Linked DNA regions of Homo sapiens: all the other regions are linked to region 2. Evidence: fine-mapped expression QTL. A gene starts in region 2. Each other region holds a variant in brackets. All regions are shown on one strand. Distances are between the middles of the regions.

The links.
Region 1: its variant is fine-mapped to the expression of PMEPA1 in pancreatic islets (PISA, PIP 0.95). The same link has a PIP of 0.9 or more in fetal neocortex.
Region 3: its variant is fine-mapped to the expression of PMEPA1 in fetal neocortex (Walker 2019, PIP 0.95).

The regions. Positions count from the first base shown.
Region 1 is chr20:57,646,965-57,657,572 of GRCh38, reverse strand. It overlaps PMEPA1 (prostate transmembrane protein, androgen induced 1), which reads left to right. Exons shown (of 4, transcript NM_020182.5): 3 at 4,487-4,540; 4 at 4,975-9,177. The coding sequence ends at 5,520. Among named protein-coding and RNA genes, the nearest start is that of ZBP1, 32 kb to the right of the region's middle. RefSeq lists enhancers at 1,673-2,270, 2,271-2,870 and a silencer at 3,064-3,143. The variant A/G (reference allele first, on the strand shown) is at 5,097.
Region 2 is chr20:57,704,544-57,715,151 of GRCh38, reverse strand. PMEPA1 (prostate transmembrane protein, androgen induced 1) reads left to right here and starts at 5,137. Exons shown (of 4, transcript NM_020182.5): 1 at 5,137-5,678. The coding sequence starts at 5,570. It overlaps NKILA (NF-kappaB interacting lncRNA), which reads right to left and starts at 4,969. Exons shown (of 1, transcript NR_131157.1): 1 at 2,372-4,969. RefSeq lists enhancers at 1-92, 2,472-3,083, 6,144-6,755, 9,846-10,440 and silencers at 4,736-4,855, 4,876-5,305.
Region 3 is chr20:56,722,301-56,732,908 of GRCh38, reverse strand. No RefSeq gene overlaps it. Among named protein-coding and RNA genes, the nearest start is that of TFAP2C, 98 kb to the right of the region's middle. The variant A/G (reference allele first, on the strand shown) is at 5,806.

The sequences.
Region 1 (10,608 bases), 58 kb after region 2:
GGCGTGCTGCAGACCTGCTGCTCTCAAGCCCCGACGTGTTTATTTGCTGTTGCTACCACTCCAGCAACAAGCACTGGTTACGTCTGCCCAGGGATGCCATCAGGGACTTCAGGGGTTCACCCCACTTTCCAGAGGAGAAACTGGGGATGAGAGAGGTGGAACATTTGCCGGAGGCCACACTGCTTGTCACTGCCGGTGTGAAGAGCCCACAGCCTATTCCGTCCTCCCTCAAGTGCTGGGGAGAGTGACGGTGCCTGGACATTCCAGAAGGCACCAGCCCTGGAGGGGCACTAACTCCAGGCTGGACTCACCTTGCCCCTCGGAGCCTCAGTGTGTGCATCTCCACAGTGGGTTGAAGCTAGGCCTGTGCGGCCCGTGGTCATGGGGAGGATGCAGTTAGTGGAGAGTGTACCGTACCCAGAGGCCGACTGCAGGGGCTTCACTGTTGTGGAGCAGGAGACGGCACCTGGGATCCTGCTGCCAGGAAGGGGTAGGATTCCGTCACACCTTCGGCCAATAGAAAGTCTCCTCCCACTGTCTACCCAGCCGCCTGCACAGCCGCCCGGGATGCCTGGCTGGGTAAACGTGGAGCCTCACTAGGCCTAAAGCAGAATGTGGCAGCTCCCCTGGGGACCCCCTGCCAGACAGGAGTCCCTGGGCCCCGCGGCCTTCCATAGAGATCCACATACAGCTCTTATCTGTCCCGGGCCCAGTCTACATCCCCCCAGCCCATCCATGCTCTGCCCCTGGCATGGCTATCCGACCATGGCCCCTTTTCAGGGTGACCCTGGGGGTCCCCTCTTGCCTGTATGGAGACAAGAGCTCGTGCCTCACCCACCTGCCTCACCATCTCAGGTAAGACCCTGAGCTCTGAGGTCTTTTCTCGGCCTTGTCACCTCCTTGTTGTGTGACACTGGGCAAGGATCTGCCCTCTGAGGGTGAGGCTCCAGTGCAGGCAAGCCCCTCGACCAGGGATGGCACTTCCACCCTGGCGCTGCTCCGAGGGTATTCGGGACATGATGCAGAACGTCACTGCAGTGACCGCCCAGCCACGGAGTGGCGCAGACTTCAGGTTTACCCAGAAAGGCAATCCCAGTCTTTGTGCCCAAGGCCTGCTCAGACTAGGAACTCAGGCCTTGGATGGGGTGACCCTTTGTCCTCTTTATCCCCCAATCAGTCCTCAGTGTGGGTCTCCTGCTCCCGAGAGAACCCAGCCCACCAAGGGCCCATTTCCCAGGGGCAGGGACAAGACTGTGGCCAGGCCAATGTGCGACAATCTGCCAGCAGCGGGAGCCAAAGACCTAGCGTCCACTCCCATGGCCTCAGGAGATACCGAATTCCCCCAGGCCCCTTGTGCTGGGCTGTGGGGGAATTCAGTATCTCCTGAGGACATGGGAGGTACCGAATTTTTTAGGAACATCTCTTTATTCTTTAGAAACATCTCTGAGTCCTCGAAGTTTGATAGAAGGCCATCCCGTCCCCTTGGATGTTCCTGGGGACTCCAGGGGAAGAATGGGCAGCTACGTTCTGGCCTCGTGGTGTTAAGACTCTGGAGGGGTCTGGGAGGAGCTGCCTGAGCGTCAGCTCACTGCGGCTGCCTGGTTTTGTCAATGAGGTCTTTTCTGAGTGTGAATGAAGTGTTTTCGAGTGCGTTTTGCCCATAGCTGCGCTTGGCTGTAGCAGCAGGGTTCAGTGGTATGACAGAGACCCGCCGGCCCACAAACCAGAAAATATTTTACTCTCTGGCTCTTTATGGAAACAGTTTTCAGACCCTTGGTCTAGAAGCATCTAAATGGGGAAGGCGCAGGTGGACTGGGTGCGCCCACTTCAAAGAAGAGGAGTCCACCCCGAGCCCTGGGAGTCTGGGAGTGGTTGGAGGCTGCTGGGAGCAGGGGGCTCGTCAGCAGTGGCTGTAGGATTGGAACCTGTCCTTGTCCTCCACCTGGGGTGACTGGCAGACATAGCCAGAGGCTGGGGAAGGTTCCAGACAATTCTGAAGCTGGGCCCACCTCCCCCGACTTCTCAAGCCACTTTGGAACCTAATTCCACAAAGATGACTTGCACGGGTCACCCAGCAACTTCCGCACTTAAGTAGCAACCTGAGCACTCCCTGACTGCATAGCACGCCGGCGCCTGGCACTGGGGAAACGGTAGCAGCTCCTGCAGGGCGAGTGAGACCCCTGAATAGGCCACCGGGGGCAGAGGGACAAAGGCTGTGGTGCAGGAGGGGACTGGAGGAGATGGGAGGAGGTGCCTGACCCGCCTGGGGGGCTAACGGAGAGCTCTGGGGTTAGCACACCTGGGCAGAGGCTTGAGGGGCCAGTCAAAGTTCTTCAGGAAAGGGAGGAAAGAGGGGCCATTGGTCCAGACCCAGGATGGGCTCAGATCCAAAGGCAAGACGTGAGAGTCTGTGTTCACTGGGCACCTTGCAGAACACACTGTATGGTGCATTGCAGGCGCTGTCATCAGCCCGCTATACAGATAGGAAAACCCGTTAAAGGAAACAGCTATACTACGGCCGTGGACATCTAGGGGGTATGGGCCTCGGTAAGGGGTTGGAACTTTCTCTCCTGGAGGCAGCGGGGGGCCCAGACGGTTTAAGCAGAGGAGTGGCAGGGTGTGGGGTGGGGGGCATGAGGGAGATGTTCCCACTTCTGTGAGGAGGAAGGGCCCTGGGGAAGGGCAAGAGTGGAGGAGACCCTGGGAGACCCCTCAAGGACCTCAAAGACCAGCGGCACTCGCAGCCTCTGGGAGATGGTGAGACACGCAGGCTCGCCAGCCCTCCTGCTACAGAATCTGCATTTTTGCAGGCTGCAGATGGACTGTCTGCACATGGAGGCCCTGGTTCCATAGGACTTTGCTGTCCACTAGGCACAGATGCTGGGGAGAGAGGTGGATAGAACTGTCTAATAGAAGGAGAAGTGAGAGGGGATCAAGGGTGGGTGGAACAAGGGTGGTGGGGAGAGGAGCTGTCAGGAATGATCCTGTGGATCTGGCTTTGCAACTTGAAGAATATCAGAGCCATTCGCTAAATCAGGAGACGAGGCAGTTAAGACCTCCTTAAGGGGTAGGAGCGGTCCTGACGGGACAGTTTTGAGGGGCCACAGAGCCTCCTAGTGGCCATATGGGAAATTACCACCCTCTGGCCGTTCCTACCCAGGCTGCAGGTGAGCGGTATCCTACCTGGGAACCCTCAAAAAACCTGCCCCAAGGGAACGTTTGAGGTGATGGACATACTCATTATCTTGATTGTGGTGAGAGGTTCTTGGTATAAATATATGCCCGAACCAAATTGTATGCTTTGAATATGTCCATTTATTTGCATATCAGTTATATTTCAATGAAGCTATAAAAGTAACAGACATCCCTTTCCCCGGGCCCAGGGCTCACCGTCATGGCATTTGGGGAAACTCAGAGGAACTGGTCCTGGCATGGGGTCTCATTTTCCTCAGAGCAGATGGCATAAGCTTCATGAAGTGGCAGCTGTGCCCCTGCACCCAGACCAGAGCTTGGCGCCACAGTGGAACCACACACCTCCTTTGCCAGAGGCTGAATCACTGTTTTATGGCAGAGCAGCCGCCTTGGGCACTTTCCTCAACTCTCCTGTTTTTCACCTGTGAACTGGGACATCAGTAATGATGGGCTCACTAGATCAAGGGAGAGAAAGACTGTAAAGAAATAAATGCATAGAAGCAATGATTAAGTTAGGACAGGTGCTGGAAAGGGAATCAACAGATGACAAGGTTCACGGGAGAGGCCCTTCAGATGCTGGTCTCCAAGGGTCTGCAGGGGACGCTGGAACTGAAAGTGGACAGCAGCGGGCCGTGCAGCCTGGCCTGCCGTGTAAAGGACCTGGGGCTCGGGCTGAGCTTGTTGAGGCCCCAGGGGGCTGGTCAGCATGGCTGGTGGGAGTGTGGAGGTGACACCCAGCACATTCACATGCTACCTGAGTGCCACGTGGGCTCCGGGTGGTTTTTACATTCAAATTCAGCAAGTGCTTGAGCAACTATGAGGCAAGTACTGTAATCTCAAGAACTGTAATTCAGGTACAGAAACTGCAGCGTTGAAATTAAGTAACTTGACGCAGGTCACACAGCCAGCAGGGGGCCCAGGCCCAGGGGAGTGGGGCCAGGGGTGAGGGGCTGAGGCCATGTTCAGCCTGGTGAGAAGCCACTGAGGCCCACGGGAAGCTACAGGCAGCTTTGAGAAGGGGGCCCCACAAGTGGGTGTATGTTTTGGAAAGTGTCAGGCTGGATTTTCAGGGGACAGCAGAGGGCACCTCAGGGATCAGTGAGGAGGTGATTGCGCTCACGTCCTGGAAAAGCGCCCAGGGCCAGGGGCTGGGGAAGCTGGTTCCGATGCAGAGAGGTGGGCGGGTTCAAGAGCTGATTCCAGGGTAAAGGCCTAAGAGTCGAATCTGGGTTGAGCCTTTGCTGTCCCTCCTGCCCACCCCACTGACCCTGCTTGTACGTTTCTTCCTGTGCAGGAAGGATGCCTGTGGCCCTCGGAGAGCACAGTGTCAGGCAACGGAATCCCAGAGGTGAGACCTCCCTCGGCCTCCCCTCCAACACCCCCATCCCACCCTGGGCTGCTCCCGCTGCGGCTGGAACAGTGTGGGCTGCTAAAGGCTCACCCCTCCGCCCTCCTCTGCAGTGCCCTTGCTGCTGGGATCCTCCTTGCCGGAGATCATCTGCTCCCTGCCCCTGAGGGAGCAGCCCAGCTCTCTGCTCTCTGCACACGGGAGCACGGACGCTGCCACTGTTTGGAGGAGGGCGGTGCAGCTCTGCAGTGCTGCCCCCCAGGCCAGGGCCCCCGCGGGATCAGGCTCTGGGCTCCCGCCCCCGCCAGCCCTGCTGCCCTCTCCCTTTCCCCAGAGAGCCAAGTCCCATGCAGCAGAACTCCAGTCTCAGGATCGCTTCTGGACAACCCACCTGAGACAGCCGCCCTCCCTCACTCCCGCTCTGCTTCCTCCAGCCGCAGGTCTACGCCCCGCCTCGGCCCACCGACCGCCTGGCCGTGCCGCCCTTCGCCCAGCGGGAGCGCTTCCACCGCTTCCAGCCCACCTATCCGTACCTGCAGCACGAGATCGACCTGCC[A/G]CCCACCATCTCGCTGTCAGACGGGGAGGAGCCCCCACCCTACCAGGGCCCCTGCACCCTCCAGCTTCGGGACCCCGAGCAGCAGCTGGAACTGAACCGGGAGTCGGTGCGCGCACCCCCAAACAGAACCATCTTCGACAGTGACCTGATGGATAGTGCCAGGCTGGGCGGCCCCTGCCCCCCCAGCAGTAACTCGGGCATCAGCGCCACGTGCTACGGCAGCGGCGGGCGCATGGAGGGGCCGCCGCCCACCTACAGCGAGGTCATCGGCCACTACCCGGGGTCCTCCTTCCAGCACCAGCAGAGCAGTGGGCCGCCCTCCTTGCTGGAGGGGACCCGGCTCCACCACACACACATCGCGCCCCTAGAGAGCGCAGCCATCTGGAGCAAAGAGAAGGATAAACAGAAAGGACACCCTCTCTAGGGTCCCCAGGGGGGCCGGGCTGGGGCTGCGTAGGTGAAAAGGCAGAACACTCCGCGCTTCTTAGAAGAGGAGTGAGAGGAAGGCGGGGGGCGCAGCAACGCATCGTGTGGCCCTCCCCTCCCACCTCCCTGTGTATAAATATTTACATGTGATGTCTGGTCTGAATGCACAAGCTAAGAGAGCTTGCAAAAAAAAAAAGAAAAAAGAAAAAAAAAAACCACGTTTCTTTGTTGAGCTGTGTCTTGAAGGCAAAAGAAAAAAAATTTCTACAGTAGTCTTTCTTGTTTCTAGTTGAGCTGCGTGCGTGAATGCTTATTTTCTTTTGTTTATGATAATTTCACTTAACTTTAAAGACATATTTGCACAAAACCTTTGTTTAAAGATCTGCAATATTATATATATAAATATATATAAGATAAGAGAAACTGTATGTGCGAGGGCAGGAGTATTTTTGTATTAGAAGAGGCCTATTAAAAAAAAAAGTTGTTTTCTGAACTAGAAGAGGAAAAAAATGGCAATTTTTGAGTGCCAAGTCAGAAAGTGTGTATTACCTTGTAAAGAAAAAAATTACAAAGCAGGGGTTTAGAGTTATTTATATAAATGTTGAGATTTTGCACTATTTTTTAATATAAATATGTCAGTGCTTGCTTGATGGAAACTTCTCTTGTGTCTGTTGAGACTTTAAGGGAGAAATGTCGGAATTTCAGAGTCGCCTGACGGCAGAGGGTGAGCCCCCGTGGAGTCTGCAGAGAGGCCTTGGCCAGGAGCGGCGGGCTTTCCCGAGGGGCCACTGTCCCTGCAGAGTGGATGCTTCTGCCTAGTGACAGGTTATCACCACGTTATATATTCCCTACCGAAGGAGACACCTTTTCCCCCCTGACCCAGAACAGCCTTTAAATCACAAGCAAAATAGGAAAGTTAACCACGGAGGCACCGAGTTCCAGGTAGTGGTTTTGCCTTTCCCAAAAATGAAAATAAACTGTTACCGAAGGAATTAGTTTTTCCTCTTCTTTTTTCCAACTGTGAAGGTCCCCGTGGGGTGGAGCATGGTGCCCCTCACAAGCCGCAGCGGCTGGTGCCCGGGCTACCAGGGACATGCCAGAGGGCTCGATGACTTGTCTCTGCAGGGCGCTTTGGTGGTTGTTCAGCTGGCTAAAGGTTCACCGGTGAAGGCAGGTGCGGTAACTGCCGCACTGGACCCTAGGAAGCCCCAGGTATTCGCAATCTGACCTCCTCCTGTCTGTTTCCCTTCACGGATCAATTCTCACTTAAGAGGCCAATAAACAACCCAACATGAAAAGGTGACAAGCCTGGGTTTCTCCCAGGATAGGTGAAAGGGTTAAAATGAGTAAAGCAGTTGAGCAAACACCAACCCGAGCTTCGGGCGCAGAATTCTTCACCTTCTCTTCCCCTTTCCATCTCCTTTCCCCGCGGAAACAACGCTTCCCTTCTGGTGTGTCTGTTGATCTGTGTTTTCATTTACATCTCTCTTAGACTCCGCTCTTGTTCTCCAGGTTTTCACCAGATAGATTTGGGGTTGGCGGGACCTGCTGGTGACGTGCAGGTGAAGGACAGGAAGGGGCATGTGAGCGTAAATAGAGGTGACCAGAGGAGAGCATGAGGGGTGGGGCTTTGGGACCCACCGGGGCCAGTGGCTGGAGCTTGACGTCTTTCCTCCCCATGGGGGTGGGAGGGCCCCCAGCTGGAAGAGCAGACTCCCAGCTGCTACCCCCTCCCTTCCCATGGGAGTGGCTTTCCATTTTGGGCAGAATGCTGACTAGTAGACTAACATAAAAGATATAAAAGGCAATAACTATTGTTTGTGAGCAACTTTTTTATAACTTCCAAAACAAAAACCTGAGCACAGTTTTGAAGTTCTAGCCACTCGAGCTCATGCATGTGAAACGTGTGCTTTACGAAGGTGGCAGCTGACAGACGTGGGCTCTGCATGCCGCCAGCCTAGTAGAAAGTTCTCGTTCATTGGCAACAGCAGAACCTGCCTCTCCGTGAAGTCGTCAGCCTAAAATTTGTTTCTCTCTTGAAGAGGATTCTTTGAAAAGGTCCTGCAGAGAAATCAGTACAGGTTATCCCGAAAGGTACAAGGACGCACTTGTAAAGATGATTAAAACGTATCTTTCCTTTATGTGACGCGTCTCTAGTGCCTTACTGAAGAAGCAGTGACACTCCCGTCGCTCGGTGAGGACGTTCCCGGACAGTGCCTCACTCACCTGGGACTGGTATCCCCTCCCAGGGTCCACCAAGGGCTCCTGCTTTTCAGACACCCCATCATCCTCGCGCGTCCTCACCCTGTCTCTACCAGGGAGGTGCCTAGCTTGGTGAGGTTACTCCTGCTCCTCCAACCTTTTTTTGCCAAGGTTTGTACACGACTCCCATCTAGGCTGAAAACCTAGAAGTGGACCTTGTGTGTGTGCATGGTGTCAGCCCAAAGCCAGGCTGAGACAGTCCTCATATCCTCTTGAGCCAAACTGTTTGGGTCTCGTTGCTTCATGGTATGGTCTGGATTTGTGGGAATGGCTTTGCGTGAGAAAGGGGAGGAGAGTGGTTGCTGCCCTCAGCCGGCTTGAGGACAGAGCCTGTCCCTCTCATGACAACTCAGTGTTGAAGCCCAGTGTCCTCAGCTTCATGTCCAGTGGATGGCAGAAGTTCATGGGGTAGTGGCCTCTCAAAGGCTGGGCGCATCCCAAGACAGCCAGCAGGTTGTCTCTGGAAACGACCAGAGTTAAGCTCTCGGCTTCTCTGCTGAGGGTGCACCCTTTCCTCTAGATGGTAGTTGTCACGTTATCTTTGAAAACTCTTGGACTGCTCCTGAGGAGGCCCTCTTTTCCAGTAGGAAGTTAGATGGGGGTTCTCAGAAGTGGCTGATTGGAAGGGGACAAGCTTCGTTTCAGGGGTCTGCCGTTCCATCCTGGTTCAGAGAAGGCCGAGCGTGGCTTTCTCTAGCCTTGTCACTGTCTCCCTGCCTGTCAATCACCACCTTTCCTCCAGAGGAGGAAAATTATCTCCCCTGCAAAGCCCGGTTCTACACAGATTTCACAAATTGTGCTAAGAACCGTCCGTGTTCTCAGAAAGCCCAGTGTTTTTGCAAAGAATGAAAAGGGACCCCATATGTAGCAAAAATCAGGGCTGGGGGAGAGCCGGGTTCATTCCCTGTCCTCATTGGTCGTCCCTATGAATTGTACGTTTCAGAGAAATTTTTTTTCCTATGTGCAACACGAAGCTTCCAGAACCATAAAATATCCCGTCGATAAGGAAAGAAAATGTCGTTGTTGTTGTTTTTCTGGAAACTGCTTGAAATCTTGCTGTACTATAGAGCTCAGAAGGACACAGCCCGTCCTCCCCTGCCTGCCTGATTCCATGGCTGTTGTGCTGATTCCAATGCTTTCACGTTGGTTCCTGGCGTGGGAACTGCTCTCCTTTGCAGCCCCATTTCCCAAGCTCTGTTCAAGTTAAACTTATGTAAGCTTTCCGTGGCATGCGGGGCGCGCACCCACGTCCCCGCTGCGTAAGACTCTGTATTTGGATGCCAATCCACAGGCCTGAAGAAACTGCTTGTTGTGTATCAGTAATCATTAGTGGCAATGATGACATTCTGAAAAGCTGCAATACTTATACAATAAATTTTACAATTCTTTGGAATGAGGCTTTTTCACTTCTTTGGCCAAATGTAGCTCTTCTCACTTCCCACCCCTTTCTACAATAACCCCGGGTGCATTCAAGGGAGGCGAAGCGATCCCTCGGAGCTGCTGGGCAACCTTGAACAGTTCGTTCAAACTTTCTGTTTTATTAGTTCAGGCAGCATTCAGGGAGCCCAGTGAAAACACTAGCTCAGGCAGGTTCTGGTAAAGGGGGTGGTCGTTGTTAAACAATTTTGCAAAACACTGCATACTTTTCCTCCGTCGGGAAATCATTATTCACCATAGCATGACGAAAGCTCTGATAAGGTCTGCAAGGAAAAAAGAAACTGTCTTAGGTAGGGTTCTTCCAGAAGTAACCCCAAGACGTGGCCTTGTGTGTAAGGGATTAGGACGTTTTAAGGATGTGCTCCCAGGGGGCTTCCGCTAAGGGAGTCAGGGAAGAGGATCAAGGAGGGGGAGAACCTGAGCAAGGGAGACACTTGTGGACAGAGTTCCAGCCTCAGCTTGATCCCAAGAGGACCTGTGGGGGCTCTGGACCCTGGAAAGGTAGAGTCCCAGACCCCTCTGGCTCCTGGTGCACAAGATGGAGGAGTGAGTCTCAGAAGCTGCAGAACTGTCCTCCCAGAAGCCAGCCACTAGCAATGCTCATGGAGACAGGGGGAGGGCTGTACAGACTCCCTAAAGGGTTCCAGTGGGACCTGGGGGCACCTGCAGCACCCACTACAGACCCTGTCTCATTTATTTTACTACACTTGGCCCTTGAACAACGAGGGGTTCAAGGCACGCTGAACCCCCTTGCTGTCAAAAATCCATGCGTTACTTGTAAATAAAATTTTTTTAGAGATGGGGATCTCGCCTTGTCACCTAGGCTGGAGTACAGTGGTATGATCATAGCTCACTGCAGCCTTGACCTCCCTCGAGGCTCACAAGGCCCTGCAGAGCCTTCCCATTCTCTCTGGCATCTCCCAGATGTTCCAGCAACATGCACCGGTTTCTCCCCCCACACACCCCATTTTCTCCCTGTGGCTATGCTCACTGCTGCCCCTTCTGCCTGGGATCCCCTTCTCTCAAAGCCCACATTGCCCTGACATCATTCAGACCCAGACCCAGTTCTGATAGCACCTTCTCCAGAAAGCCTCCCAGGATGCCCCCAGCTTCTCTGTGCCGGCTCTACTGAGGCAGTCACTGCACTGCTTGTGGCGTTCATGGCTCCTCCCCAAGGTCACTGCACTGCCTGAGGTCAGGGCCAGACTCACGTCCATTGTCCATGGGGGATAAACACGTGCTCCCAGGAGGGACCAGGCCTGCACTCCACAACTGCTTCCATTCTCACAACACCCCATTCTTCAGACATGGAAACCGAGGCAGAGAAGTCAGCCGGCCTTCTGTGTCACTGGCTTGGAAGAGTTGGGATGCTCTATCCCACCCACGC
Region 2 (10,608 bases):
TGCCCACGCCAGACCCAGAGCAGGTGCTGGAGTGGCCTCTCACCAACCCAGCCGCTCCAGCCTCACTCCGCTGCAGAGTCAGCTGCCCCTCATGGTCGGAGATGAGGTTTTATGAACAGACACCACCAGCGGTGAGGCAAATGGTGGATCCCCGGGGGCCTCCGTGGAGCTGAGGGGGACGGCGCCAACCGAGTCCAGTGGGACGGCCAGGGGGACGGCGCCAACCAAGTCCAGTGGGACGGCCAGGGGGACGGTGCCAACCGAGTCCAGTGGGACGGCCAGGGGCACAGTGCCAACCGAGTCCAGTGGGACGGCCAGGGAGGACCCAGTCAAAGGCAGTGAGGAGGGAGACAGGGTGCAGAAGGCATCATTTGCTGAGGCCAGCCCATGGGCTTTAGGGCCCAAGTACCTGATTCACATCCCAGCTCCACCTCATCCTTGGGTCCCTGAGCCTCAGTGTCCCCATCTGTCAAATGGGAATAATATCAGCTTGGACCTCAGAGGGTTGTCGTGGGGATCCAGTGAGCTCATTTCTGGCTCTCCGTAGGATCCCAATGCATATTTGTGGAATGACTAAGTGGAAGAATGTGAAGTGGTTAGAACAGGGCCTGGCATGGCACATGGGCAGTGCCCAATAAACATTGGCTCTTACTAGTGTTTAAAAGTAAAACAAGACAAAAAAAATGAAATCCAAAGTTGCTAACCTGTGAAAGTTGACAGCCCCAATTAACCCCAACCTGAGGAAGAAAATGACCCTGCTGGACGGTGTTTCCAAAGGTGCTAAGTTGGGAGGGGAGGTCATTAATCTGCCTAAGGTTTCCCAAGACTAATTCTGCAGAGGCAGCTCCGTCCAGGCAGGCCGGGGGTGGCAGGCAGACAGGGGCACGGCTGGCCCTGAGGAGGGCCTCTGCCTTGTCCCCTCAACCGGCTCCCCAAGCAGGACTTTTGTTGGCTCAGTCAGGCACTTTCCACAGTGGCCAGCCACCCTCGGCCAGCGGGCACAGTCAGAACACTGCCAGCCACCCTCAGCTGTGGCCAAAACCCACACTGACTTCCATGGGGTCCCAACTGGCTGCCAGTGTGGGCCTGGCATCTGAGCAGGACTGGTTACAGATTTGCAGGCCCCCGTGTTCAGAAACTGTTAACTATTAGGAATTTCACGATGTCAACAGTAGAAAAAATTAAACTAAAAAATAAATAAATAAAATAATACAATAAACCCCCGACCCTTCAGAGCATGGGGCCCTGGAGAGTGCAGGGGGGTCACACTCCCACGAAGCTGGCTCTGCACACAAGTCCAGCAGAGCACAGATGCGCGGCGCTGCTGGGAGCAAAGCCCCTTAACCTGCTGAAACAGGACGTTTCCTCTGGAAAATCCCCCCGGCCGCGGATTCAACCCATGGGCAGGGCGGATGGTGGCACACGCTGTCTGGAGTCCCAGAAAGGCCTGTCTCTGCAGTCACCCATTTCACAATCCATTTGCTTCACACACCCATTTCACAACCCCATGGCCACAGCCAGGCTGAGAAATGTGTCCCAAACTCCAAACCTGCTGGGACCATGAGAGTCTCCCAGTTCCTGATGCCCCCACTGGCCTGGCATCCCCTCTCTACTGTCCCCTACATGCCCAGCCCACATCTCCCCAGAGAGGAGGCCCAACCCTTTGGGCTCAAGTCGCCTCCAAACCCTCTCCTTTTATATTCTTCCCAGGTCTCGTCCCTCTCTGAAATTATCACCTGGACTCATCTTTTTACACATGTGATGTCAGCCTCACCTGTGAGCCTCAGTATGGCTGGGGCTGCACCTGTGGGTGGTTGGTAACTGCAGGTGGAATGAGATGCCACCTCCTCAGGGAGGGCTTCCTTGATCTCACCCCAACTCTGGCCTTTGGCCTGTTATCACCATGTCTGAAATGACCTCCTGACCTCATTGAGCTATGAGTTTGCATGTGTGTGTGTGTCTTTAGTCCCTTTGTCCCCCACAATGTCACACGAGGTCAGGGAGTTGGTTTTCTTCCCAGCCCTGTGCCCCATACCCAGCACAGAGCTTCACACTGAATAGGAGCAGAATGTTTGTTCAATGAGTGAACAAAACCTTTTTTTTTTTGCCTCTGACTTGTGGCATTCTTCCCAGGGACTCAGGCCTGCCCAATCGCGGTGCCCCCTCCCCACTCCCACTCCCAGCAGTGAGCCCTCCCTCCTCAGCCCATTAACACCTTGGCTCTGCCCATTTCTCCTGGGTAGAATCAGGGAGTTGTGACCTTCTCTGCCTGTGCCTGACAGTGGGCTCTGCCCTTCATGCCCAAAATGCCAGCATCACAGTCCCTGGCACATCTAGGGTTATCAGATTTCGCAAAGAAAAATACAAGCTATCCAGTTAAATTGAGATATACTTACACTAATCATTATTCATAGTTTATCTGAAATTCAAACTGAACTGGGTGTCCTGTATTTAATTCTCGCAGTCCTGGGCACACACGAAGCCTCCTATGAGTGCTGGCAGTCCAGCCTATGCTCCTTCCAAAGCAATTCTCCTTTCCTACTGCCCCGTCAGGGGCCCTGTCTGTGCTGGAATCATCATTGTCCTCAACTGCAAAATGGAAAATAAAATGATAGTGGTTCCTCCCTCCCGGGGTTGCCAAGATGATTAAATAACATAACAACTAAGATGTATCCGGCCCCTTCTCCTCTACTTGCAAGGCATCGATCCCTTCATTCCTCGCAATCACACCACGTGAAGGTGCCATGAAGCCACCCCATTTTGCAGAAGAGGAAACTGAGGTTGGAGAGGTGAAAGCACTCAGCCGAGGTCACACAGCTATGTCCCACTCATCTTTGGGTGACCCTCAGGTTCGGACCCTGAGGTCTGAACACTGCATTAAGCTCTCCAGACAGAATCAACTTCGGAACTAGCGCCAGAGACCACTAAGTCAATCCCAGGTGACACCATCAGCACTCAATAAATGGTAGCCACTGCCGGTGTCGCAGATGGATCAATGGGAGGTCAAGCGTTGTGGGTAGGTTTGGTTTCTTTAAGCCACTGAATTAACTGGTTATTTTTGCCTGCTGGCAGTGCAGCCTCCATTGTGTAAATGCCATCTCACTTCCAAGACAATCAACGTGTGACTTCTCCCAGCCAGACTAGCCAGGTCTCCCGAGACTTCCCGGAGGGCAGGGGCTGTGTCTGGAGTGGCTGAATTCCCCGGCTCAGGGTTGCAGCTCAGCCAGTTTGTTGATTGAATGAATGAAGAAATGGCTGAAAGCAGGGGTGGTAATGATGACCTCCTTCACCCTAGGAAGTGAATGGGACCCAGGTCATCTCCAGGCCCAGCCAGTATTTGCAGTGGCACCCCAAGGGATGCTGGGGGACCCCTTAGCTTTTCTCTTAAGTTGCAGCGGCCAAACTGCAGCAATATCTTCCCTGATAAAAGACACGCTGGTGGTATTGCCCCTTCCTCAAGGCAGGGGCTGAGGGCGCCCAGTTCACAGCAGGGTGCCATCTGGGGTAGACGCTGGGTATTGCCCCACTCCTGGGCCGGGGCCTGGGTCCTGACCTAGTGCTGGCTGTGGCTCCAAGAGTGAGCTTCTCCTCCCAAACAGAAGACGGTCAGTGCCTCTGAACCTCCCTCTGGGCTGGGCACGCTTGGACTCCTCCAAAGAGCTTGGACCAGCCTGAGCCACATCCCTGGGCTTGACTTCTCCAGAACAAGCCTCCTGGTCTTTCTGGGAGAGCTCTGGCAGCATCACTGTGCCTGTGCAGGGAGAGCGGGAACCCACTTCCTGCACCGGCTTTCTCTGAGTTCTTCAGGATGAATTCGCTCTGGTCTAGGTAAGTTCTACCCCGAGGCCACCTTCACTTCCCAAATTCCAGCTTTTCCTTCTCTATCCAAACTGTTACAAACACAGTAACAATAATTTTTAAAAGCTTTTTTTTTCTCTGAACACACTAAGTCCCTGCTAATTACTGAAACTCCAGGCATTACAGGAATATGTGGACACTTAAAGAATCAGGACTACGTGGGAGAGGGGGAGGCAGCTCCCCAGGGTCCTGGGTTGGCACACAGGCTCCACCACTGTGTGACTTTCAACAAGCGACTTCCTTGACCAGCTGCCCGCTCTGTAAAATGGGGAGAGTAATATTCGGCCACACTGAGTCGGTGTCAGGTTGAGTTAATATTTGGAGAGTTTCTGGCACAGGTAGGTGCTCCTTAAGTGCCTGTTAAATAAGTGAAGCTTTGAGAAAGTGTCTAAAAGGCGACACACTAAATTTTTAAGAGGCTGGAGGTGGGCCAGGGAGGGGAGGTCTCTTATGTAATATTTTAATATCTTTTTAAACCTGAAGAATGTGTTCTTGTAGCACTCCTGTAATTAAAACTTAATGAACTAAAAGTACACCCCTCCTGCTCATACCCCTTTTGAACTCCGCAGCCGCGCCCCCCAGCCGGAGGCCCCTTGGGCAGCAGACAATGGGTGTGGATTCGCCCCAGGTCCCGCCGGCTGGGGCGGCGACAATACACCAGTCCCCGACAGCTATTTACATGACAAGGGCTTCCGGGCGTGTCTACGCGAGTTCCCGTCTTTCCTGGTCGTCCTCCTTGGGTTCGGGTGAAAGCGCTTGGGGGTTCAGTGGGCCATGATCCCCGAGCTGCTGGAGAACTGAAGGCGGACAGTCTCCTGCGAAACCAGGCAATGGGTGATCCATCTTGGGGGCTTCCTCCCCCTTTCTCCAATTTCTCTTCCCTGAGCCCCCAGGGACCTTGTGCTCCTCAGAAGATAGGCTAGCCCCAAGAGCCTGGGTCAAGGACCCCAGGGACGGGGGCGAGGGGAGGGCGCACCAGCAACCCGCCCGGGTGCGGCTGGCACCGAGTTCGGCTCCCCGGCCCCGGGCGTGCGCCGGGCAGGCGTTCCAAGCTGACCGCCGTTGGGGAGAGGGCACAGCGCCCCTCCTCCGTTGCGCGGGTGCCGGGTCTACGTGGGCCGCCTAGCTCTGGCCCTTTAAGAGCCCGCCCCGTTTCCCGTCACCCCGCCCCCCGGCTCGGGGAGGGGGTGCGGGGGAACCTCGGCGGGGATTGGCGCAGCGCGCGCCCCCTCCCCGGCCCCCGCGCGGTGGGAACCGGCAGCCCCGTCTAGCGCTGACGTCAGACCGTCTGCCTGCCTCCGACCGCGGTCTCGGAGCGAAACCCGATCTCCTTGGACTTGAATGAGGAGGAGGAGGCGGCGGCGGCGGCGGCGGCGGAGGCGCTCGGCTGGGGAAAGCTAGCGGCAGAGGCTCAGCCCCGGCGGCAGCGCGCGCCCCGCTGCCAGCCCATTTTCCGGACGCCACCCGCGGGCACTGCCGACGCCCCCGGGGCTGCCGAGGGGAGGCCGGGGGGGCGCAGCGGAGCGCGGTCCCGCGCACTGAGCCCCGCGGCGCCCCGGGAACTTGGCGGCGACCCGAGCCCGGCGAGCCGGGGCGCGCCTCCCCCGCCGCGCGCCTCCTGCATGCGGGGCCCCAGCTCCGGGCGCCGGCCGGAGCCCCCCCCGGCCGCCCCCGAGCCCCCCGCGCCCCGCGCCGCGCCGCCGCGCCGTCCATGCACCGCTTGATGGGGGTCAACAGCACCGCCGCCGCCGCCGCCGGGCAGCCCAATGTCTCCTGCACGTGCAACTGCAAACGCTCTTTGTTCCAGAGCATGGAGATCAGTGAGTGACCCCACGCCCCCCTCCCCGGAGACTCCATCGGGCTCGGACCCTATGTCGGGGCACAGCTGCGAGCGGGGGTCCGGGCCCTGCGCGCCCCCTCGGACCGAACGCCCTGCGCCCGGGCAGCGCCCGCCGCGCCCCGGGCGCGCCCTCCCGGCTCGCGGCAGCTGGCGGCCGGCCCGGCTTTGTCCCGCGGCGCTGCGAGCCTGGCACGGCCCCCGCTGTCCGCGCCCCGCCCGCCCGGACTCGGACCCGGGGCTCAGCGGCGGCGCACGGCGCGGGAGGGTTGGGGCGGGCGGATCCGTGAAGTTTCCATTTTATTTCCCTGAGGGCAGTCGCGATGGAGCATTTAGGCCGGCTCTTTATCAACTTTGGGCGGGGGTGGAGGGGCGTGTGAGACACTGTCTGGTCTGCGAGGTGTCTGGGGCTCCGGGCGTGTGTCTGGAGTGTTCGCGGCGCTGTGTCTCGGGCTCTGAGTGGATGTCCGTGCGTCTGTGGAGTGTGCGTGGCTGCGTGGCTCTGTCTGGGTCTTCGGCGTCTCTCGGGGTGTCTGGGGGTCTGAGTCGCGGTCTTGCCCAAGAGTGCGTGTCACCGAGTCTTCCTGCCTCTCTCTGTGTGTCTTTCCCGTGTCCGGGCCGGGGTGCCTTTCTTGAGCGTGTCCATCTTTCTGGGGGTCTGGTCTGGTTGGGCCGGATCTGGGGACCGTGTGTGTCCAGGTGTCTGAATCCAGGGCTCAGCTCTGGCCCGTCTGGCCCAGCGTGGATCTTGAATGTGTGTGTGTCATTGTGCCAGTGTCTGTGTCCCCGACGCACCTATAAATAGCCTCTGTCTGGACAGCTTGGTTCAGTCTGGCTGAGACCATGGTTACAAAGGAGTCAAAGTTTGGGGCTGTTTGTGTTTGGGACTGCCTGGCCCTAAATAAGGGATCAGTGGACCAACGGTGGGGAGTGGGGTTTTGAACCTTGTCGCTAACGCAGCCGCCTGGGCACCCAAAAGTTCAGATAAGTAAGTCTCTACCTCCTGCACACACAGCCCACCTAGGTGGACATTTGGTTGAGTGGAGAATTGAACCACTACCTCCCGGGTTCTGGCTTCTAGCTTCTAGCCTACACCTTGTCCCCCAGCCCACCTTTTCGGGGACCTTTTGCTTCCCTGAGCTTTAGTTTCCCCATCCCCACCCTGAAGAAGCACGCCAGGTGAAGGGGCACACAGTCCTTCCCTGCTGGGGGCCAGGCTGCCCCTAGCTGGGGCCCGGAGCTGAGAAGCAGCCGCTGTGGAATGAAGGCAGTGTCTGGGCGGCTCATAAGCAAGTGTCCGCAGGCGGCTGCCAGTTTGTGGCCCCTGAGCCTATACAGTGAGCTTCAAGTGGTAAAAATAACCAGGCTGGCCGGGCTTTGGTGGTGGGTCCTTCCATCCATCCACCTCTCCACACTCCCTCCCAGCCTGGAATGGAAAGCTCTCCCCCTACCCCACCTTAGCTGGCCTGTGCCAGACTAGCGAGGTGCCAGGAGGACCTGCCCAGAGCCAGCGTTTGCGGAACCGACTTGCCTTCCCAGAGGCCCTTTGTGAACTCAGGAGGCTAATGAAATGCACGAGAATGTTATTAAAATACGTTCGCACACGTTTGGAGAGTCTTGCCTTAGATGGATTGCTGCTTCAGTGCCCTCCTTGCCTCACTTTTTGCCTTTCGCTCTGTAAAGCTGCCTTGAGGACCTCCTGCTCGAGGGGCACACATCCTTGTGTCACCCTTATTCCAAGGGCTGGGCACAGTGCATCATTTTGCTCTTGTCTCTCTTTATGGTTCAGGACTTAAAAAAAAAAAAAAAAAGCATTGTTCTTATTTCTGTCCTTTCTTAGGCTCATCAGTCCATGATGTTTTTGACCTGACATCAAGGCCTCTTGTTAAATGCCTTGCCGCCGCCCTCTGCACTTTGCCCCGCCGCCGCCAGCAGCCTTTGAGTGATTGGGACCCTTGGGGTTAATACCTGGAACCCTAGCCTGTTCCAGCTGGCCCCTGGGTGCCCCAGTTAGTCCTGTGTTCTGTGTATACACAGCCCCCTACTTATTGGAAGAAAGCTGCAAGGCACGGAGGGAACCAACCAGTCTTTAAAATGCAGGTATACTGTAACAGTTTGTTTTCATCAGATTTCCCCGAGAGACTAGGGTGAGGAAGTGGTAAGGCCTGGTGTCTCCTGGAGTTTCTTTACACCAAAAGATAGGAAGGAAGGAGGGAAGGAAAAAAGAAAGGAAAAAAGCTAGTATTTGGTTTTTCTTTTAACTAGTAGTGGCTGCTGTTTTTCATCTAGTACATGCTGGGAGTTGTTTGCAACGAGAACTTGATGGATGGTTTGGAGTTGGGCTTTGAGGCAGTGTCCAAGTGGCTCCTATCCTGTAAGATACCTTCTTTTGGCAGAAGGAAATTGACCTTGCTAGGTCCTTAAGCCATGATGGGCCTCACTGTCTTCATCTGAAGAATGAGGCCGTGATGGATGAAATCTAGAATTCTATAGTCTTTCAAGATAGGGCCTCTCCCCTGCTGAGCCTGGCTGGAGGTCTTCAGGCTGGACCGGGCTTCCCACCCACTGCTGGTTCCCCTGTGTGGTCTTCAGCTACCCCAAATTTCAGACCTGAGAGGAGCCTACGCAAGCTCGGGGTTCACATCCCTGACTTACAGATGAGGAAAGTCCACCGTGGAAAGTTTTGCCCGAGGTCCAAAACCCACACCAGCCCCAGGCCAGGGTGGTTTCTCTTGGACTGCACGCCCACACCTCTTGAATTTGGTACTTGGGCCCCAGAGCAGGTCCTCCTTGAAATTGGGGGCTGGGGGAAATTGTCAGAGCCCCTTTGTACGCCGGGAGCCACGTCTGCTCTCAGGATGCTGAATGGAGTGGGCTTGACTGTAACAGGACACTCCTGGGGCCCCATTTTTTCTGAGAGTCGAGGGATGAGGCTGCTGTCTGGTGGGAATTCAGTGTTCCCAAAACATACCCGTGGGAAAACCCTTTCTTTTAAAAAGCCAAGGGTCCTGGGATTAAAAGCAGGCAGCACGAGTGACAGCCTTGCAGATGTCAGCCTGGAGCTTGAAGCGGCTACTTTTGAGGAAAGGACTCCTGGCACCTGGTTTTCCTGGCAACCTCATCTACCTCATTTCAGTTCTGCTGCGTCTCAGAGATTACCCCCGGTCTTTCTCCTCTGGTTATTGCCTCAAACTTCTGGGGCCCAGATGGATGCTAAGTTCGCTCTCGGGAAAGACTGAACCTGGGGCCACCCGGTGTCTGCTCACGCGGGAGGCGTTTCCTGAGAGTTCTGGGAGGTGCCCCTGCCCTGGGCCCATCTCTGGTGGTATCTACGGTGGCAGCTGTCTTTTTAACATCACCCACTGGCCAGAGTCACCGAGCCTCTGATTCTTCTTCTCCAACCTTTTCCAAACAAATATGAGAAAATATCAGAAACTCACAGGACACCCAGGTTTCCCTGGGCTTGCCTGGCACATGCTGTTTGACACTTGCTTGAATCAAGTGAGGGTGTAGAGACAGTGCCTTGGCACTGTGACATTCTGAGCCCGGTAATTCTTTGTTGGGGGGCAGGAAAGGCCGTCCTGTGCTCTGTAAGGTGTTACCAGCACCCCTCTCCCACACCCACTAGATACCAGCACCCCTCTCCCAGGTTTGACAGCCAGAAATGTCTCCAGACATGGTCAAATGCCCCCTACTGAGACCACTGTTTAATCAGTTAGTGGTTTCTCCTAAGGGGCTTGAGGGCCAGAGGGCAGCATCTGCGTTGCCAGGAGACCCTTAATTCCCGTCAGACGTTCGTCCCTGTGAAGGCCTGTGGCCACTCCGCAGCCACTCATCCACTCAGCTTTTACTGAGTGCCTGTTGTGTGCCATGAAGGAAAGATAGGGGCTTCCTCTTGAGATGAAGTTTTCCCGTTTTCGTCTTGGATTTGCTTTTCTAAGGAGAGACCCTGGCGTTAGTGAAAGCTGATGTTTTGGATTGGGGTTAAAATACAGATGTCCAACACCAGCTGTTCTCCCCTGTGGACCCGCTAAACCCTGGGACTTTTCACCCACAGGTTTTCTGACTGTCTGGGTTTTAGGTTGTGGTGCAATAGGGGAGTTATTAAGGGAGTTGAGTTCTATGACCCGAATCTTAGGTCAGACAGTTGGCCTCAGCTTCCCAGGAGGTCTGGGTTAAGCCAGCTACACTGCCCAGTGTGACCCAGGGTCGAGGTGAGTTTAGCATTTGTCAAAGCACAAAATAACTAATTGTTCCTGTACAAACACACACGCGCCTGTGAGTGGGTGCTTGCATGCGCACACGTGCAGACACACACACGCGCACACACAGTCATACACAGGCACACACAGCTTCTACCCCATCTGTCTTTCCTGCCCTCTTCTCTTTGGGTTGGGAATGGTTAAAACTTCTGGGCATGTAAGAAGAAAAGGAGGAAGAGTGCACATTCTCCCCTGTAAGAGGTGCGAAGGTATGCACCCTCTCCATAAAAGAAGGAAGGTGGACCCCTGTGTGCCGCTGCCCAGGAGAAGGGAGGCCGTCGGGAGGTCTGTGGAGGCTGGAAGCGTCTACAGCAGAGTTGCCTCCCTCAGGAGCCCCAAGGAAGCCTCCATGCTGCAAGATGCACCCGCCACCAAATTGCCCCAGAGCCACGGGGTCAGGTGTGCCCACATGCCTGCCCCCACCATCTCCACTCCCATCGTGGCCCAGGGCCAGGGGGTTTAAACGTTTATAGTCCGGTCAATAGTTTAAAAGCCAGAAAATGTTTGGAGGAAGGTGCTGGTGGCAGGGTCCAAACCTGAGGATCGGTGTGGCCTTCTCTCTTCAGGTGTTAGCATCCAGAGACCAAGTTTGCAGGCACCTCGGTGTCTGGGATCCTGCCCAAAGAGAAGGAACTCTTACACGGTGAATTT
Region 3 (10,608 bases), 980 kb after region 2:
AAAGAGAAAAAAGAAAGAAAAAAAGTGTTTTTTTTTTAAACTAGGCACGCTGGCTTATGCCTGTAATCCCAGCACTTAGGAAGGCCGAGGCAGGCAGATCACTTGAGGTCAGGAGTTTGAGACCAGCCTGGCCAACATGGTGAAACCCCATCTCTACTGAAAATACAAAAAAAATTAGCCGGGCATAGTGGTGAGTGCCTGGAATCCCAGCTACTCAGGAGACTGAAGTTGTGATGAGCCAAGATTGTGCCATTGCACTCCAGCCTGGGCAACAAGAGCGAAACTCTGTCAAAAAAAAAAAACCCTCTGAGCCTCAGTTTGCTTGTCTGTAAAATGGAGATAGTGATGGTACCTATCCCTTGTATGATTGAGAGGATGAAGTGATATCATGGATATAAAATATTGAGCACATTACCTGAAATATAATACATGCCTCTAGAATCACTTGAACCCAGGAGTTGGAGACTGCAGCGAGCTGAGATCACACCACTGCACTCCTGCCTGGGAAACAGAGTGAGACCCTGTCTCAAAATATACATATATATAAAAAATATATATAATATATATATATACACATATATATTAATATATTATATATATATATATTTTTTTAATGCCCAATAAATGGTGGGTGTTATTGCTATTTCTAATCTCCATGAACACCACAACCACATAAGGAACCCACTATAATGGGCCCATTACATGACCCAAGCAAAGTGATATCAGAGAGGTTCAATACATGCTTTAGGTCACACAGATAACAAGCAAAAAATACACTGTTAACCTCTCATTGTTTCCTGTGTTTATGCCGTGTTTCCATGTTTTCCCATCTACTATCTGGTTCCAAGATGTGTGGATACCTGGTGTGTGTGAGTTAGCTCAATTCATCAACGCTAGGGAAGTATGCAAATGCCTCTGGACCTCGCAAGCCCAGATTCAAATCCTTGCTATGCTCAGCTGAAAACTCCCACTTCCTAGAATGGAAGTCCCACGCAGACCCAGATCTTGTCTTTTTCCTGCCTTCTTCCTGGTTTCTGGTCTTCTTGCCCTATCTCCCCAAGAATTACCTTGAGTTCTCAATCAGTGCACTTAAAAAGAACTGGGCGTGGTCAGAATTACTCTTGAAAATCCCATAAATCATGCACAAAATGCAGTAAGCAGGGTTTGTGTGTACAACCTGTGCAGGATAAAGTATAGATAACAGCTGGGCGTGGAAATGGGTTCCTGTCCACTAGGGATGAGGTGTGGCTAAGGCATGGGAGTGGAGGGCATGCACGCTGAAGAGTGTATATACATAAGCAAAATATGCAATGAGAACATTTTTGGAAAATTCTTTGGAGTGTATGTAAATTAGAAGTGAAATGCACATGTACCGGAATTCTACATTGTTAAAATGTTGGTGTAGATATGAAGATCAGGGAACAGAGGTAACAACCCAAACAGAAACATCAAGATAGGGATAATTTTATATGCACGTATTTCTAAATTACCCTAGGATGATAGGCCCTGTGCAGTTTTGCACCTAGCATTTCTCTACTGAGAGTCTTACAGACATTTTCTCCAGCCATCAGTATCCACAAAGGTCCGGTCCTGGCTCTGGGGCTTCAGGCCCAGGAGGGGTCAGGAAATTTCCACTGGCTGCTGGCTGGGTGGAACAGAACGGTTCTCAGCATGGGCAACTCCAGGAGCAGCAAGCCAATGAGAGTGGCCGGATTGAAGCCACTGACGTACAGGCATCCGGCAGGCCTTGTAAATAACTCCAGTGGGTAACAGCGGGGTCTGGGGTTCTGTAGCAACAAAGTCTGCCCCACCCACAGCAATCCAGCCAATGTGTGGTTCAGGAAGGCTGACCAGGCACGGCCACATCTCCCCATATCTAGAGAGAAGATCAAAATTCAGATAAAAGCTCTTGATTTCAAAGGTTGGTAATTAATTTGAAATTTTTTAGCTGTATGAGGCAAACAGAACACATCTGGGTCACATTTGGCCTGCAGTCCTTCCAGCCTGTAATGTCTAGGTTAAAATTTGGAAGTGATTTTGTTATACCAAACTTTGGGGGCCCTCTATTTCATGGGACCAAGTGGCCAAAGTTTCCAGGTCATTTTCAATGGTCTCTTTGAGAGTCATATTTCAAGATTCACTAGAATTGGCAAGCAGAGACAAACAATTTATTCAAAGATCTTTTCACCTAGTTTCCTGTCAATATAGCTGGCTAGGGAGACTATTCCAACTTCATTTGAAAAAAGCTCACAGATTTGGAAGTTAGCTAAGAACCCAAAAGTCAGTCTAGCTTCATGCAAAGCAAAAACCGGCAGCCTAAGAAACCATAGCCTGGAGTGGGGGGTGGAGAAAAGAAAAGACTAGAAGGAAAAATACCAACATATTAACAGAACGTGAGGATATGGGATTATAGGATGGGCCACCTGGCAACCTATTAAAACAGAATAATATGTTTACTTTCCTCTCTAGGAAAAAAACTGAGAAAACACCAGACGTGGCGACATCTATAACTTTCTACTTATATGCTCATCATTAAGTTAGTGTCATGGACCTTAACAGTTTTGTCTGCCCAGACCACTCTCCTTCCTCTGAAAACGGAACTCCTAGTTTTCCTGTTAATACCCCGCCCCTCTGGACCCTATGGTTCCTATGGCAGCCCGGTTTCCAGATGAACCAATCCCGTAGTCCAGGAGCAGTCACCTGACCCAAGCTGAGCCAATGAGAGGTCTACCTTGTGCAAGTTGATGCCCGCCTTTTCTGCCAGAAGAATATCACCGACCCATCCCTTGGTTCCAGACCATTCGTGAGGCCCAGCAGCAGTGTCATGCCTCTCGTGGCTTGGTTAGTTGGCCCCTCCTTGATTTGGGGGAAGCCAATGGATCATCATCTTGGATTTCAGTCACTTGCCATCACTGTCTTTCACCAGAAGCCTGCTGATGAAGTCAATGTGTAAGAAGAGGATCCTGCAGAGATAAGACGTGGGCTCACTCATCCTGCTCACTCTTCAGCCTGCACTATGTGCTAGCCCACTTGGGAGCTTGGTGGATACCTACAGAAGCAAAGTAGCTCATGAGCAGGGCAACAAACTTCTATTAGTAAAATCCACCATTCTGGGGCTTTCCAAACACCCAAAAATACACAATATTTTCCTTCCATAAACACACCCTTCAAAACGGCATTATCCTTCATCTAGTCCTCTACTTCCTTATACCTCAAAGTGTCTTTTATTTCCCTTTTTAGACATGAAATATTTGGCAGCTTTAGCAAAGCAGGTTGGCTGCCATATATGAAAAATGTAACCTGAAACCTCCGCCTCCCGGGTTCACGCCATTCTCCTGCCTCAGCCTCCCAAGTACCTGGGATTACAGGCACCCGCCACCACGCCCAGCTAATTTTTTGTATCTTTAGTAGAGACGGGGTTTCACCATGTTGGCCAGGATGGTCTCGAACTCCTGACCTCGTGATTCACCCTCCTGGGCATCCCAAAGTGCTGGGATTACAGGCGTGAGCCACCGCGCCCGGCCCGAATGTTAAATTTTTATTTAGCTCCAAAATAGCTTGAGGGGAAAAAAAGAAAAACAATGATGAAGTTGTTGGGGGCACAGAGGTGTTTTATAAATAGGAAAAATTAAAGATCATAGAATCAGCATTACCAGTGGTTCAAGTAAAAATCCTAGATAAATGATAAGAATTACTGATAAAAAATGAAATATACTTGACTCTGGAAATTTGTAAATAATAATCTAAATTAAGTCTTAAATCCAACACAGAGCAGTTGGGTGCAGGATTGTTTGTTTGTTAAAAAAAAAAAGCTCCTCTTATCTGGCTGGACACGGTGGCTCATATCTGTAACCCCAGCACTTTGGGAGGCCAAGACAGGCGGATCACGAGGTCAGGAGTTCGAGACCAGCCTAGCCAACATGGTGAACCCCCGTCTCTACTAAAAATACAAAAATTAGCCAGGCGTGGTGGTAGATGGCTGTAGTCCCAGCTACTTGGGAGGTTGAGGCAGGAGAATCACTTGAGCCTGGGAGGCAGAACTTGCAGTGAGCTGAGATGGTGCTGCTGCACTCCAGCCTGGGCATCAGAGCAAGACTCCATCTCGGAGAAAAAAAAAAAAGTTTCTCTTATCTTGTAGGGAGGCTTACAAAGCAGTTTCTTTAGGCAATCATGTATTTCTATAGCACACTTTGTCCCCCAGAGAACTGCCAGCCCCAACCATCCGGATAACTCTGTTTTTCCACAAATTCAAAGTGCTTTGAAAACTGGAGACTTGGGAGAGATCTACGCTTGTGGTGAATTATTCAAATCTGGGAATTGTCACAATGGAAAAGAAACCAAAGCTCATTCCAGTCTTTCTTTTTGAGGGCAACAGTGCTTTAGACAGAATGCTCTCGTCCCTTGAGAAAACCACATATTTTGAAAAGGGGAATTTTTTTTTAAACAAAAAAACTCTGCTGTAAATGAATTTCTTTCTTTTTTTTTGTGACAAAGTCTCTCTGTCACCCATGCTGGAGTGCAGTGGTGTGATCTTGGCTCACTGCAACCTCCACCTCCCAGGTTCAAGCGATTCTCCTGCCTCAGCGGGGACTATAGTTTGCGCCACCATGCCTGGCTAATTGTTGTTTTGTTTTTGTTTTTGTTTTTGTTTTTGTTTTTGTTTTTGTTTTTGAGATGGAGTCTCGCTCTGCCCCCCAGGCAGGAGTGCAGTGGCACGATCTCGAATCACTGCAAGCTCCGCCTCCCGGGTTCATGCCATTCTCCTGCCTCAGACTCTGAGTAGCTGGGACTACAGGCGCCCGCCACCACGCCCGGCTAATTTTTTATATTTTTAGTAGAGACAGGGTTTCACCGTGTTAGCCAGGATGGTCTCCATCTCCTGACCTCATGATCCGCCCGCCTCAGCCTCCCAAAGTGCTGGGATTACAGGCGTGAGCCACCGCGCCCGGCCAATTTTTGTATTTTTAATAGAGACAGAGTTTCACCATCTTGGTCGGGATGGTCTTGAAAAATGCATTTCAATGGTATGACAACGGTATGACATTCTATTTCCCTTCTTGCATCAAATGCAGAGTCATGCATCAAGTGCAGAGACACTATGTGGACGAATAAACACAATAGGTTAAGAAAGGGGTTGATTTAAGAAGTAAGAAAGGGAAAAAGGTAACTTTAAAGTGGAGAAACCTGGCAAACACAACCTCAACCACAGCCAGGGTATCAAGGTCAACATCAACAGTGATAACTCGTGTTGACAGTGCGTACTTTTTTGATAGGATGTGATGAGAAGGGGCTTCACCTTTGTGATCTTCCTCCCCTAAACTCAGTCTGTTTGGTGAAAATAACATCCGACAAATTCTAATTGAGGTATGTTTTACAAAACATCTTTTTTTTTTTAAATGGAGTCTCACTCTGTGTGGCTCAGGCTGGAGTGCAGTGACGCAATCTCAGCTCACTGCAGCCTTCACCTCCCAGGTTCAAGAGATTCTCCTGCCTCAGCCTCCCAAGTACCTGGGACTACAGGTGCTCACCACCACACCCGGCTAATTTTTTTTTTTTTTTTTTTTTAGTAGAGAGGGTGTTTCACCGTGTTGGCCAGGCTGGTTTCGAACTCCTGACCTGAGATGATCCACCCACCTTGGCCTCCCACCATCAAGGTCATCAAAAACAAAGAAAGTCTAAGAAACTGCCGCAGCCAAGAAGAGCATAAGGAGACAGGATGACTCAATGTCATGTCGTATCCTGGAGTAGGGAAACAACACGGGGAAAACTAAGGAAATGTCTATCAAGTATGGGCTTTAGTTAATA[A/G]AAATCCATCAGTATTAGTTTATTAATTATGACAATATGCAATAGTAACGTAAGAAGTTCATAATAGAAGAAGCCGGATTGTGGGGCCTATAGAAACTCTGTACTATATTTGCAATTTTTCTGTAAATGTAAAACTATTCTAAAATTTAAATAAGATTTTAAAAGTAGTAAATCTTGTGATTTGTCTAGTATGTTTTTTATCTGCTTGAAGGAAAAATATTTTAATTTATTTTTCATCAGTAATTCTTATCATCTATCTAGGATTTTTATTTATTTATTTATTTATTTTGGAGATGGAGTCTCACTCTGTCGCCCAGGCTGGAGTGCAGTGGTGCGATCTCAGCTCACTGCAACCTGTGCCTCCCAGGTTCAAGCGATTCTCCTGCTTCAGCCTCCGGAGTAGCTGGGATTACAGGCACCTGCCACCATGCTCGGCTAATTTTTGTATTTTTAGTAGAGACAGGGTTTCACCGTGCTGGCCTAGGATTTTTATTTAAGCCATTGGTACTGCTAATTCTATGATCTTTAATTTTTCTATTTATAAAATTACACCTGCTGTTTTGGTTATTAATCTGTTGTCTGTTTAGTCTTCAAATACCTGGTAAACAAGTACTCTAGTCTGGGCATAGTGGCTCACACCTATAATCCCAGCACCTTGGGAGGCCGAGTTGGGCGGATCACTTGAGGTCAGGAGTTTGAGACCAGCCTGGCCAACATGGCGAAAACCCATCTCTACTAAAAAATACAAAAAAATTAGCTTGGTGTGGTGCCACACACACTTTTGGTCCCAGCTGTTCTGGAGGCTGAGGCACGAGAACAGCTTCAACTCAGGAGGCAGAGGTTGCAGTGAGTTAAGATCCCAGCAAGAGGTACCCGGAAGCCCAAGCGCCACCTCTACCTCTGGGTACCTGTTTAAGAGGCGTCCTCTCACCAGCATAGAAAAGCAAAACAATCAGACAGAGAGGAAGACTGGATCTAATGCCGGAGGATGATCAGAGGCGAATGATCATGAAGAGAAAGTGAGATGACAGTGCTGATTCTTAATGGATTCCTGATTTCCTCTGACAATCTCCACAAAGTCAGGCCTCACTACCTGCCCTTGATTTCCCAAGTGACCATTAAATCCCTGGAAAAAGAAAGTATTTAGTGCTTAAGCTAGTTTGAGTAGGTGTCTGCTGTTTGTAACCAATATATCTCTGACTAAGCCCATGTTCACTGTTCAAAGTTTGAGAAGGACCAGAAAACATAAAGAGAAATTTTAAAACAAAACAAGCACAGGCAGCTGCATGACATCTATTGTCTGGGTAGTGACCAGCAGCAGCACCACCATTTTTGCCTGTCCAATGTGCATTTTGCCTGGACTTTCTACAGTGATAGGGTGTAAGCTGAAAGTTGGTGGTCAGGGTTTCACAGGGCACAATCTGCCTTAGAAGAAAGCCAGGAGAGGAAAGCAATATTGAGAGATAGAGAATGGCTGGGCATGGTGGTTCATGCCTGGATTCCCAGCACTTTGGGAAGCTGAGGCAGGCAAATCGCTTGAGCTCAGAAGTTCGAGGCTAGCATGGGTAACACGACAAAATCTCATCTCTAAAATATATACAAAAATTAACAGGGCATGGTGGAGCATGCCTGTATTCCCAGCTGCTTGGGGGACTGAGGCAGGGATTGCTTGAACCCAGGAGGTCAAGGCTGCAGTGAGCTGTGATTGTGCCACTGCACTCCTGCCTGGGGGCCAAAGTAAGACCCTGTCTCCAGAAAAAAGAGAGAGAGAAATAGAGAATGATTCCGGATGGCATCCTTCAGCCCCTGGATCCAGCCGTGCCTGAAGCCACTGGCCTTTTCAACCACATAAGTCAATAAATTTCTTTGTTTATCTAAGAAAGTTTGTGGCCGGGTGCGGTGGCTGACACCTGTAATCCCAGCAGTTTGGGAGGCTGAGGCAAGTGTATCACGAGGTCAGGAGATCAAGACCATCCTGGCTAACACGGTGAAACCCCATCTCTACTAAAAATACAAAAAATTAGCCAGGTATGGTAGCACACGCCTGTGGTCCCGGCCACTTGGGAGGCTGAGGCAGGAGAATCACTTGAACCTGGGAGGCAGAGGTTGCCATGAGCTGAGATTACACCACTGCACTCCAGCCTGGGTGACAGAGCGAGACTCCATCTCAAAAAAAAAAAAAAAGAAAAAAGAAAAGAAAAAGAAAGTTTGCATAGGGTTTTCACTCTCCTGTAATTAAACAAACCTCATGAAATGTCTTAGGTCAGAGACCTGTATGAAGAATTCAGACAGTTCTCCTCTTCAACCCTAAGCCAGGGTGGGTAAGAATACTGAGTGCTGGCTGGACAGCTCTGGCACCTGCCCCTTTTTACAATTTATCTGAGGAAAAAACACATTCAGAGTTTTGCCTGCACTCCAAGGATTAGGAAAGGGGGCCAAGAGGAGACATGAGGAGGAAGATGGAAGCTTCCCTCTGAACAAGAACAGAGACAGTGCCAGAAAGTTCAGATCAAAGAGGAGGGCTGCGTTGACAGGGGCTTAGTCAGCCGCTGGTGTCAAGACCCAAAGAGAAAGTTGGGCAGGTTGACATGGAGCCCACAGGTGGGAGTGGGAGGTGGAGTCTGGATTTTGACCCAGCCGGCTGGAAACTCATTTACTTTTGGCCATGGTGACTTCCTGTTTTCAAAGGGAAGGAGGCATTGGTAAAGAAAAGCCGCCCCCGGCTTACTGGACAGCAAGTATTTCTCACAGAGTTCTATTTTTTGCTCCATTCAATGCCAGTGGTTCCAATTTATTTTATACAAAACAGGGTTCTGTGATGATGGGAAGGTCTTCAACAAGGCCAGTGGATTTGATTGAGAGCAGAAGATGAATGAATCATTCCAAGATGTTAGACAAAAACCCCAACACACCCAGGTTCCCCCGTTGAGACTGGGCTGCTGTTTGGCGTTGTGGGGAGAGTGAGCCACACCGGTGGCAGGGCCTGCACTTCCCATCCAAGACCATTTCCTTGCAATGAGGTCTCTTGATTCTCAAGGCCCATTTGGGTGCTGGAAATGCCTCTTCACTCTACCAAATCTCCACTTCCGGTTTTGACACCTAACTCATCTCAAATCCAGGAGTGACGGCCTCTAACAAGAAATTATATTATTGTCTGGGCACAGTGGCTCATGCCTATAATCCCAGCACTTCGGGAGGCTGAGGCGGGTGGATTTCTTGAGGCCAGCATGGCAAAACCCCATCTCTACTAAAAATACAAAAATTAGCTGGGCATAGTGGCACACGCCTGTAATCCCAGCTACTGGGGAGACTCAGACATGAGATCGCACCACTGCACTCCAGCTTGGGCAACAGAATGAGACTCTGTCTAAAAAGAAAAGAAAATCTATTATTGTTTTTTAAACTTCCAACCTACTCTCCATAGCCAATTTGGGGCCAAATCCATGGACATTACTGAGCCTCTCAGCTGTCCTCCATCTCAGTCTAACTGTGAGAGGAGCTCGGAAGCAGCTGTCTGAATACTTTCTCAAGTCCTCACTTCTGCCCAGCAGTGACCCGGAATTTGCTCAAGCGTTTCTGGAAAACCAATGAGGCCGTAGGAAGATGGCCCTCCCTCTGCATGAGAGTCCTGTGACAGTCATCCTAGCTGTGAATGAGGATGTAACCAAGATCGCATGGCAGTCTTGACACAGGTAAAGAAACAGGCAGGTCAGGAGAGAAGGACGCTCAGAATTTTGGTAGACTGTATACAAATCTGATTCCAGATTATTCCTCTAGTCCAAAGGTTCTCAACAGGAAACAGTTCTGCCTCCTGGGGACATTTTTGGTTGTCACAACTAGGGGAGAGTGTTACTGGCATCTAGTGAGTGGAAGACAGGGATGCCCCACCACATGGAACATAATTCCACAACATGAAATGATCTCGCCCTTAAGGTCAACAGTGCCCAGGCAGAGAAGCCTGCTCTAGCCACATGATCGGTCTTAAAAAGAAGAGGGCTCCAGGAATAAAATCTGAAGAGCTGCTTCTCTAAACCATGCATTGTATCAAGAGCCAAACAGCACTGCTTCCACCAAGGCAGCATAACACAAGGAATGGAATTCTCACTTGCTGGCTCAAGGCCTTGCACACTCAAAGGCTTTGGCAAGAATATTCAGGGGGCCCTCTGGTGTATTCACTGGGGATGCTTTGGGCTGCATTTAAGAGAATACATGCCTAACAGTGGCCTACATGATAAAAGCTGGGGAAGTGGATTTGGTTGAGCAGATCTTGTCTCTGTCCGCTGTCCATCCAAATGATAGATGTTGTCCTATAAGTATGCCCAAGTGGGGTCTCTGTGTGGTTCCCTGAACTCCTAACAGGCCAGCAGGGTAGACTTGCAGCCAAGCCTCTGACAAGTTGGCCATGGTCTCAAGTAGCCCTGTGCAAGAGAATGTGCCTAGCTCAGTCCAAAACCATCCAATGGCAACAGCAGTAAAGGCTTTACAGCTTGTAAGTGAACATCAGCAAGTACGAAGGGCAACTCATCATCCGCAAAAGCTCTCTACAAAATTGTCCACCAATCTTCCTTCCCATCTCCATCCTTGCAACCTCATCCACCCCTTTATTCCTGAAGGAGGCACCACAGGAAGGAAGGTTAGTGAAATCAACAGAACGTCTACTCGCCCTACAAACGTGGCATCCTGCTGGTGGGCAGGCAGTAGTCTGCAAGGCTGTAGTAACGGGGCTGGGACTGGGACCTCGTCCACTGCGGCCCCTCTGTCTCCCACACTTCCTCTTTGTGTCTCAGGCTGAGTTTCCCTTCC